Regions from separate parts of the Homo sapiens genome. Here region 1 is reported to be linked to region 2. Evidence: microRNA targets listed by miRTarBase, many of them from high-throughput screens and not tested one by one. Region 2 holds a microRNA gene; the other region holds the end of a gene's coding sequence.

Region 1 (5,061 bases), not on the chromosome of region 2:
GTGGACAACCCTCGCCAGGTCCCCTCACCATGTCCCCCTCTTAGGTGCGGCAGCAGGAGCTATTGCTGAAGTTGCTACAGCAGCAGCAGGCGGTCCCTGTGCCCCCCGCACCCAGCTCCCCGCCCCCACTCTGGGCTGGCCTGGCCAAGCAGGGGCTGTCCATGAAGACGCTCCTGGAGTTGCAGCTGGAGGGCGAGCGGCAGCTGCACAAACAGCCCCCACCTCGGGAGCCAGCTCGGGCCCAGGCCCCCAACCACCGAGTGGTGAGCAGGCCGGGAACCTCCCGGGCTCCCCCTACAGTTTCCAGGGTGGCACAGGGAGGGGGATACTGAACCCAGACTTGTGCAGCCCCAGCCCCAGTCCCAGCCTCTCCTGTGATGGCAACAGCTCTTGTGGCCCTCACCTCACCTGTCTCCCTTTGCCACCTAAACAAGCCTCCCCATCCGCTTTTCTGGGGTGCCTTTGTTTGAGCCACTCTGATCTTCTGCCATCTGTAGCAGCTTGGGGGCCTGGGCACTGCCCCCCTGAACCAGTGGGTGTCTGAGGCTGGGCCACTGTGGGGCGGGCCAGACAAGAGTGGGGGCGGCAGCAGCGGCCTGGGGCTCTGGGAGGACACCCCCAAGAGCGGCGGGAGCCTGGTCCGTGGCCTCGGCCTGAAGAACAGCCGGAGCAGCCCATCTCTCAGGTGGGCGTGGCACCTGGAGGCTCCGGGATGGCCCTGAGGGGGAAGGTGGCAGACCCCCCCAACCCCTGCCAGCTGATTTCCAACCCTGACTCACCCTCCCCCTTCAGTGACTCATACAGCCACCTATCGGGTCGGCCCATTCGCAAAAAGACGGAGGAAGAAGAGAAGCTGCTGAAGCTGCTGCAGGGCATTCCCAGGCCCCAGGACGGCTTCACCCAGTGGTGCGAGCAGATGCTGCACACGCTGAGCGCCACGGGCAGCCTGGACGGTGGGCGAGCGGCTCCCAGGAGGTGGGCGGGACCTGGGTCTCCAGACCCGGCCAGGGGGCCCTGACAGCCTTCGCTCATCCTGCAGTGCCCATGGCTGTAGCGATCCTCAAGGAGGTGGAATCCCCCTATGATGTCCACGATTATATCCGTTCCTGCCTGGGGGACACGCTGGAAGCCAAAGAATTTGCCAAACAATTCCTGGAGCGGAGGGCCAAGCAGAAAGCCAGCCAGCAGCGGCAGCAGCAGCAGGTGAGGCAGCCGGCACCAGCAGCTGGGGTGGGCTTGCCTGGTGCCTCCTGACCTTCACCCTCCTCTCCGCTGCCTTAGGAGGCATGGCTGAGCAGCGCCTCGCTGCAGACGGCCTTCCAGGCCAACCACAGCACCAAACTCGGCCCCGGGGAGGGCAGCAAGGCCAAGAGGCGGGCACTGATGCTGCACTCAGACCCCAGCATCCTGGGTGAGCTGGGCTGGGGCAGGAGCGGGACTTCCTTGGCACAGGGCAGGAGGAGCCCAGGAGAGAGCTCAGACGCAGCTTCTCCCCGGCTTCAGGGTACTCCCTGCACGGATCTTCTGGTGAGATCGAGAGCGTGGATGACTACTGACCAGCCCGGACCCCCAGCCCCTGGGCTGTAGGCCAGGGCAGCCACAGCGGCGTGGACCGAGGGTCCCAGCCTGCAGGCTCCCCGCAGAGAGCACAGGAAGAGGCAGGGGCGGGGTCCCCAGCACTTGTTACAAACACACGATGCACCTTAACTCACCCACCACGAGGCACTTTACAGACTGGGGGAGGGGGTTTTTCTTTTTATTTTTTTTTTTAATTTTAAACGACTGAAGAAAACATTAGGAGAGGCAAAAATATTGTTAAAAACTAGACTCTAAACACCCCTTCCTGCTGTGAGGATAGTGGGTGTGACAATGGAAGGTCCACAGAGGTTTTTGTTTTTTGGTTTTTTTTTTTTTTTTAAGAAAAAAAGATGAAAAATGAAAAAAAAAATGGTTAGGAGGCTGAAAGAAAAAACACACTGTTATTTTGGGGCAGTGGGGACACAGGCCCCGTGGACCTGTCCTGCCTGGCCCCCAAGGCCATACTTACCCCCCAGAAGGCGGGCCATGGGGTAACTGGAAGCTGGGGGCCAGCAGTTTGCACAGGAGGCCTGTCTGAGCCCCACCCGCCAGACCTGTTGTGAGCAGCTCCTGTCACTGAGGCTGGCTGAGGTGTCCGGGGTGGGGCCAAAGTAGCCCCTTGGCTTCGCTGCTTTGGGGGACAGTTGCACAAATTGGACGAGTGGCCCCAGCTCTCTGGCTGCCATCTTGTGCTGGCCGAGTAGACGGGAGGGGCCAAGCCGTGCCAACCTCTCTGGCTGGCAGGGTGGGGCAGCAGGACTCTGGTTCTGGTGAGGGGCGTCTCCCACTGCTGCCATTTTGGGGGACACCCTGGGTTTGAACCTGAAAGCCCCAGCTCTCTGCCTTGCCACGTGAATGTATTCTTTGGGCCACAAGCCCCCGCCTCACCCCTGCCTGAGCTGCCTCACCCCTGTGAGCGGCGGGGGTGGATGATTGCTCCAGAGGCTGCAGAGAGAAGGCTGAGCTGTTTCTCCAGTGAAGGGGGCAGGAGGAGGGGCCTCAAAGGCAAGGAGTGGGTGGCTTTGGGCTTAGGGTTGCAGTAGAGGGGCTGCCGCCCGGGGCCCCAACCTGTAGCCAGCTCGTAAGATGTGGACCACCCAGCTCTGCACCTGACCCTTCCGCTGACCAAATGGGAGAGGAGCAGGTGGCCTTCCGGGTCTGATATGATGCGCTTTTTACCGTTGGGTAAGGTTGGGGTGAAGAGAAGTGTGCGGCTCCTGGGTCAGAGGAGGCTGCCCCTTCTATTGCTCACCCACTTCTTATTCCCGGTCCCCTACTTGGGTTCGTCTCCGCCCATTTTGGGTTTTGTAACAGTTTTGTCTTTTGGGTTTCTCATCCAGCTCCTCCCATTGACCTCATTGCTCAGAGTGCAGTATTAGGGCAAGGCTTCGCCACTGCCTCCCTCCATGAATGTATTTCTCCCTCCTGCCCTGGGGACATGGGGAGTGGCCCGTTTCTTTCCCCATCTAGTCCCAGAAAGATGGTGTTTGGTTTTCTGTTGTTGGATTTTTTTTTTTTTTTTTTTTTTTTTGCACCAAAGTGGCAACTAGGTCAGTGTTGGGGGATCAAGCTGGCCTCGGGGTGGGGGGCCCCCACCTGCCTCTCCCTGGTTCCCACAGTGTTAGCGTCCCTGAAAAGACAATATTCTCTCTAAAGCAATAAGGGGTGACGGGCCGGGGGGAGTGTTTGCTGCTGCTGGCCCCCAGCTCCCCTTCCCTCTTGCCAGGTGTGGGGGAGACTCCTGTTGTGACTGAATGTAACCCCCCCACCCCTGCCGCAGCCAATGCAGGGGAAGGGGGACACTCTTCCTGTCTCTTCTCCCCAGCTAAAGAGACTTTGGACTTAGGGGGCCCATGAGCCTGGAGAGGCCTTAACCCTGTGAGGAAGTATAGGGGGAGCCCTCTCCCACCCCCATCCCCTTCTGAGAGTGGTCAATGTTTACAAGCCCCTGAGCCCCCCTGCCCAGGGACTCAGACCCTGTTGCTGTCCTTCCCCGGCCCCGGTCTTCCTGGGCCCTCGCTGCTCCCCTGCCCTTCCTGGGGTTGGGGTGGGTGCAGGGGTCACCGTGTTCCCTGTCTGCCTTGTACCCACAGTCTCCCCGCCCCCTCTCCACCCTGTGTGACTTCCCTCTCTTTTACCTGCTCCTGTAAATACTCCCTTCTCCCAATAAAACTTGGTGTGTGTTCTCCCGTTCCGCCTCCACTGCTCGTTATCTGGGGAGAGCCATGGGGATGAGTGGCTCTGCACAGAGCTGGGAACTAGGAGCTCTGAGCAGTGCCCGCCTGGTCAGGCTGGCTCTGGTCAGCAGCCTGACGGGGGAAACCATGGTGAGGGCTGCTTATCCGAGAACCTCTGGACGGAAGGCTCTGGGCTGGGGCTTCAGCTTTGCTCTGAGGGAGAGTGGGGACCCCACCCCCAGCCCCAGCTGCCTGGCAGGCCCCATACCTTCCCCACCATCCACCCCCTCAGCAGCCCTCAGGCAACAAAGTCCAGAAACAAGGAGAACACAGCAAGGGCAGAGACCAGGTACAGAGTTGGAATTGGCTCCTTTATGGAAAAACTGAAAATATAATAAAAATTAAAATAAAACCAGTTTTAAAAAAGCCAGCCCCTGGGGTTTCCACCTCCTGCCTCCGGCCCTCCAGAGGGGTGAGGCCCCAACCCCAGGGCAGCAGAAGGATGAGGGCCTCCTGCTCCTCCTCTTCCCCCATTCCATCCCCTTCTTATCTCCACAGTGGGGGCCCCGGGAGGAACCAAACCTGGGTGGGAGGGCAGGGACCCAAGGCCCCGTGGCCCGGGGAAGGGGGCTGGGATTGCGCCAGCCCCGCAGCCCTGGCCTGTAGTGTGGGCATGGGCAGGGCCCCTCCTGGCCTGGGCCCAGTGGGGGTGGGGCCATTAGTTCCAGATCTTGAGGAAGGAGTCCCAGGAGCCCGTGGCCACAGCCATGCCATCGTCGGTGACCCCGAGGCAGCTCACGCGGTTGTCGTGGCCAGCGAGGACTCCTGTGAAGAAGAGAGAAGTCAGAACCCATTGGGCCTGGGCTCCAGGTCCCTGCCCACCCAGCCTGGGCCCCAGCTGTCACCTGCACGGTCGCCCTTCATGGCATCCCAGATGTTGCAGTTGAAGTCGTCGTAGCCAGCGAGCAGCAGCCGTCCGCTGCGCGAGAAGGCAACAGAGGTGATGCCACAGATGATGTTGTCATGGGAGTACATGAGGAGCTCCTGATCGGCCCGCAGGTCGAAGAGGCGGCACGTGGCGTCGTCAGAGCCGGTGGTGAAGGCGTAGCCGTTGGGGAAGAACTGCAGGACACGGGACCCAGATGGGGTGAGGGTGAGGGTGAGGAGCAGGGCCGGGAGCCTGGTGGGGAGGGCCTGGCCTAGCTCGCCCCAAAACTCACAGCCACTGCATTGATGTCGGATTCATGGCCGATGAAGGTCTGTCGGCACATGGAATCCCGCACGTCCCACAGCTTGATAGAGGCAT
Region 2 (5,072 bases):
CTGGAAATACCAGCGAGTGGAGCCTGGCGTGGTAGCCTGAGCTGAGGCAGGCTGCAGGTTCTCTTCCTGACTGAGTCTGGGGTGTCACTCCATTTTTGACTGCCAAGTCAAAGGACAAAGGGATCACCATCATCAGCAGCCAGGGCAGGCGTCTATTGCTTAGGGCCGTAGAGCAGGCGTGGCTTTGGGGTCATCTCCAGCGGGGTCTTCTCAGTGTTTGGGAAGAAGGGGCAGGGCAGTCTATAGGCCCAGGCCCAGCAGCAGGATGCCCAGGGTCCCTGCAGGAAGAACCCTCTTCCCCAGGAAAGCAAGGAAGGGTTCGGGAGGAGACAGTTCCTCCTACTCTTGGAAGTCTGTGATTTGGTGGCTGGGGGTGCCTGCCCATTGGAAGGGCCCCTTATAAATGCTTTGAGTTTGGAGATTTTGAGGGAAAAAAAGCACCTGATTGAGAGTGTAGCTGTTTCCAATACACCTCCCTTCCCTGACGGAGAAGGGAAGGAGGCAGAAAACAGGGGAGAGAGCATCCCCCCTTCATTCCCACACCGCCCCACTCCCAGAGCCAACCTGGGCCTCCCTTCAAGCTCGTACTTAGTACATTCACCATGACACTGTGCACCTGTGAGCTCTCTCCCGCTCTCACTCTCTTGCGTGCACACACGCACACGCACACACACGCACAGGTATGCACACATATATATGCAGGTGCGCGCACACACACACATCTGGTTTCCTTGCAGTCTGCTCAGGCAGCAGAAGGGTGTCCCATCCTCACCGTCATCTTTTACTTCCCAGGGTGCCCTTGGCCCACAGGTCCCCAAGACCCAGCCCCAGGCTTGGCACGCGCTGGCATTCCCAGGCTTTTGAGAAGAGGGTGATAGAGCAGGGAGCTCCTCACAGACAGGTTATACAGAGTGTAGAATATGTTCATATAAGGCTTTGGTACAGCACCGATTTCATGTTCTTATAGTTTGATTTCTAAGTCATCTTTTAGAAGAAAAAAAAGCTTACTGAAAAAATAGTGGTTTTATTTACTTTTGAGTTACATACCTGAAGTTCAAAAAGTAAGCCTCTAGTTGCCATTCAAGTTCACACTCAAAGGTGTTCTGTGTGCAGCTGTACAATTTGTTGGTTTGTCTTTAATGTTGAACAAAAGTCAGCCAACCCATACCATAAAGTCAGCTGCCCAAACTCACTTTAACCAGTCCATACATACATACAGAAAAGAAAGAGAGAGAGAGGGAGAACACAAAAGCCGCCCCTAAGTCACCCACCCCAAACCCCTAGGGAAAAATCAGAAAGAAGACAAAATACAGCAAGATATCAGGAGCCAGTGGGAGGAAGGAGATTCAGCCCAACTGGCCTCTTCGAGAACAGCACCATGAAGCACCCTAGCGCAGTGATGTTGTAATACTCAACATTCAAGAAATGGAAACGAGGTTGGAACGGTCTTCACAGGAAGACCTGGCATGGATCGGGGGTCGCCCCCAAAGAAAGTGGAAGAAAGAAAGAGTTCGAAATGAGAGCAAGAAATCTCATGACGAAACTGACAGTCATATCCAGAAAAGAAGAACTACAGCAAGAGGCTGCCGCGCACCGAGAGGTACAGAGTTTGTAAGGGGTCTGGGGGAGGTAGCCCCTCCCCACCCACACTGCCTGCTCACCCCCACCCTCTGTGTGTCCTCAGACCACCAGGTGAAATGGAGGAAAGAAGCTCATCTAAAACTTGCCCCCAGGTGTGCGATGGGAGAATTCTATCCTGCATGATCAAAGTCCCTCCTGGGGAAGAGAAAAACACTGAAGACCAAGGGGCAGGAGTCACTGACATGAAGCGGGATGTGGTCCCTTCACGTCAGTGACTGCGCCCCCTTCTGGGCCCTCTATCCCCAGCCCCACACCTGGCAGTTAGGAAATTAAATCTGAATGGGAGGTCAAGACCTTCTGACACTGATACAGACGACTTAGCAAGTGGAGCGTTAAACTGCTCTTCTCCCCTAGCCAACAATTCCCCTTTCTAACACCTCAGTCTAAAGTTCCAGAATCAAGACCATCCCATCAAGTACCTTCCTCCCAGTCCCTGGACTCTGAGACTCCACCCTCCAATGCCACAGGCAACCCCCTGTGGACAGGAAGTGTGTGTGCAGGCTTGCCTCTTCCCCCACCTCCTACTTTCAGACCGCCCAAAGTGGATCACCATGAACATCTACCGCCAAGAAGAGTGGAAGCGGGAAGCAGGCAGCAAAAATCCACGACAGAGCCTTTTCCCCAAGCTGCTGGTTGGTGACAGTGGGGAAGAGGGACAGGGCCCACACTGATCCATGGGAGAGTGATTCTCACACATCTCCCTATTCCCGACTCTTGCTCTATATAGTAGACAGAGGTAGCAAGACAGAAACAACTCCTCAGATACCTCCACCTTCTACCAAAGGGAAAAGCACCAAAATTCAATGTCCATTCTGCTGTGGGGACCAAGGAACGTGTCCCAAGCATGGGGAAGAGCTCAGGCTCCTGGCAGTGGCTGTGGGCCGTAAAAGCTCCATCAGAGCACACTCATCCACCTGTCGCCCCAACTGATGCCACAAGCGGTTCCCAGGCCTCCTCCTTACTCCACATAAAGCTGATCTCAATGACCTTTGCTCCAAGTGCCTTAAGGGCTGGCTCTTCAGAGAAGCTGGAGGTCCCCTCTGACACCCAACCTTACCTCATCTTGCTGAGCAGTGGAGCAGAAAGGTCACAGGTAGGCACTAACATCCCCTCCACACTGTACAATTTCAAGGTAGGGGCTATGGCCCCATCTTCCCTTTCCCTCCCCAAAATGAAGAGTCCTGTTGGAGGCTGAGGAATAGAATGGTGACATGTGGGCCAGTGGCTCTCCCAGACCTTGATGCTGCTGAGGACCTAATCTTGGGCTGGCCCTGGTGGGAGGGCAAGCCCTAGGACATGCCCGAGGTGTTGGAGCAGTTTACTCTGCTGGTTGCATGTGGCCAGAAGTCGGGCAGAGTCCACAGAAAGAGAGGGGATGGTGGGTCTAGAAGCCAACAGAACAGTAATGGGAGCCTCCCTTGTGCAGAGACCGTGGTGGTCTGGGAAGGCTTCAAGGTAGGAAGGGAACAGAATTTGCACCTCTTCTTCTTGCCCAATCCCCCTGAAAAATCTTACAAGAAACACTCAGCTGCAGGAGCCTGCAAGAAAGATCATTCAAGGCAAGGATGGTGCCACTGACAGTGGCACCAGCACTGGATCCTTCCAGCTGCATGGACAGAGCCCATTTCCCATCAGCGTCCTCGGAAAGTGGGGAGTGTTCTCAGCAGTTAATTTGAGGACCCAAGGACAGTGCCTGACTGAATGGCAGGGCCTCATAGGTCCATGTAAGGATCAAGAGTTAGACTCAAGCTTTACCCCAACCTACTCTTCCCATAATACCCCAAAACTGTCAACCAAGCCCTTCTCACGCTGAAGGTATCTGCTTTCCTCTAAGGACCAAACTCTATAGACAAGAGCTCTTAGGGAGTGCCATGTCTTGGTTAGGAAAGGGGTTAGTACTGCCCTTTTCTGAGTGATGAGCAGGAATAAGGAGCCGAAAGGTTGCAGTCCTGAGTCTCTCCTCACTGCCTGCACCATCTGGCCCAGCACCAGCTTCAAATACATCACTCCGAGCTCCGGGCAAGTCAGGAAGGAGCTAGCACCAGGAGACGCTTGCTGAGGCTGCAAGGCAGAGCCCTTGCATATGTGTGAGGTCTGGAATTTGCTCAGAGAGGTATTCTTCAGGGCACACTGCTTCCTGCTCAGATACAAGTGAACTCCTGCTCCCCAGAATCTCCCATTGTGGGTCCAGTTCTGCCAATACATTGTTCAGTTTTGTAAGTCCCCGGCTGGAGGCCAGAAGGAAGGTTCCACTAAGACCCCCTCTCCCAGGCCGGCCCACAGTTCATCTCTCCCTCCTCATCCTCCACTCAGTGTCCCAGGATTGGAGCATCCTATTTGCAATGGCACTTTATTTCCAATTAAAAATAACTGAAAAAAACATAGATGACATATTTATACTACATACCACATTCACACTGGCTCTAAGAATCTGCAGCAACACTAAACAGGCCATGTGTTCTCCAAGACCAAGCCCAGGCAGCCAGCCTCACAAACTCTCCCATTGCCATGCCCTCTATGAGCGGTCTGAGCTGTCTGAGCTACAGTGCTACAAACCAAGACAGGTGTCACCGTAGGTCCCTAGGTAGTCTCAACCACCCCCTTTCTAATGCTGTGAAGCCAGGTTTTCTCTGAGGAACTGGTTACCTTTCCACAGCCACGTGGGGATGGAGTCACAGTTTTCATCTCCTCAGCCTTGCCCTGTTAAGCCCCTCTGCAAAGAAGTTCAAGTCAACATCCCTCCCAAGTGGCAAGAGACACATTGGTCCTGGTTCTTTAGGGCTATCAGATCCTGCAGCTCCACACAACCTTCAGCTCACTTGTCCTTCCTGCAGGTGGGTTATTTGTTTTGTTATTTTACAAACTTTTCATATATACACATTTCCATCAGAAAGACCCAAGCAACTCTGAACAGAGAGAATACCAAAGGAAGAGCAGGGAAGGAGGTGGCGTCAAGGCATGAGCTAGTATCCCAGACTGCCTGGGAAGGTAGCACTGCTCAAAACATCTCTAAGCACAGGTACAAAAATAAAGCAAACTATGACTTCATATAGATATAGAGATATATAGACTTTATCTAGGTGTTCTTTATATTTATATATGTGTGCAGAGGGCACGGGCCCCTGCCCATCTTGCCCGGCACTCATCTCTTGCCCTCCCGCTCCCCACACCCGAGTGCCACTCGCCCGAAGCTCCCAGTCTCCACGATTGCATCTGATCCTTGCCTCCCACATACATTCCCCTCTCTCCTTAAAATAGAACCAATTCTGTAGATTTATATAATTTTATGTACAGTCTCCATAAAAAATACATTAAAGATGGTGCATTACTAATTTGACCCTCCTACCCAAACAGAAGTTGTCTAGCAAAAGAGCCAAACAAAGGAGGGTCTCCTGGGCCTGACACTACGCAGGCAAATCAGCATGTCTGTA

What was found. Region 2 holds the annotated microRNA hsa-miR-4697-5p (AGGGGGCGCAGUCACUGACGUG, at 1,846-1,867, opposite strand). A microRNA usually pairs through its seed, bases 2 to 8, with sites in the 3' UTR of a target mRNA and lowers its output. Matches are read on the target gene's strand: a 7mer-m8 pairs with bases 2 to 8, a 7mer-A1 pairs with bases 2 to 7 and ends in A, and an 8mer does both.
Region 1: the mRNA of GNB2 is a reported target of hsa-miR-4697-5p. Seed matches in the 3' UTR shown: 7mer-A1 at 4,314-4,320.

Annotation. Positions count from the first base shown.
Region 1 is chr7:100,678,214-100,683,274 of GRCh38, reverse strand. GNB2 (G protein subunit beta 2) reads right to left here. Exons shown (of 10, transcript NM_005273.4): 8 at 4,976-5,061; 9 at 4,661-4,877; 10 at 4,106-4,580. The coding sequence ends at 4,474. It overlaps GIGYF1 (GRB10 interacting GYF protein 1), which reads left to right. Exons shown (of 27, transcript NM_001375765.1): 22 at 45-263; 23 at 498-685; 24 at 793-953; 25 at 1,040-1,203; 26 at 1,282-1,411; 27 at 1,504-3,768. The coding sequence ends at 1,556. Among named protein-coding and RNA genes, the nearest start is that of GNB2, 7.0 kb to the right of the region's middle. RefSeq lists an enhancer at 3,918-4,047.
Region 2 is chr11:133,896,706-133,901,777 of GRCh38, forward strand. MIR4697 (microRNA 4697) reads right to left here and starts at 1,876; the gene lies at 1,799-1,876. It overlaps IGSF9B (immunoglobulin superfamily member 9B), which reads right to left. Exons shown (of 20, transcript NM_001277285.4): 20 at 1-5,072.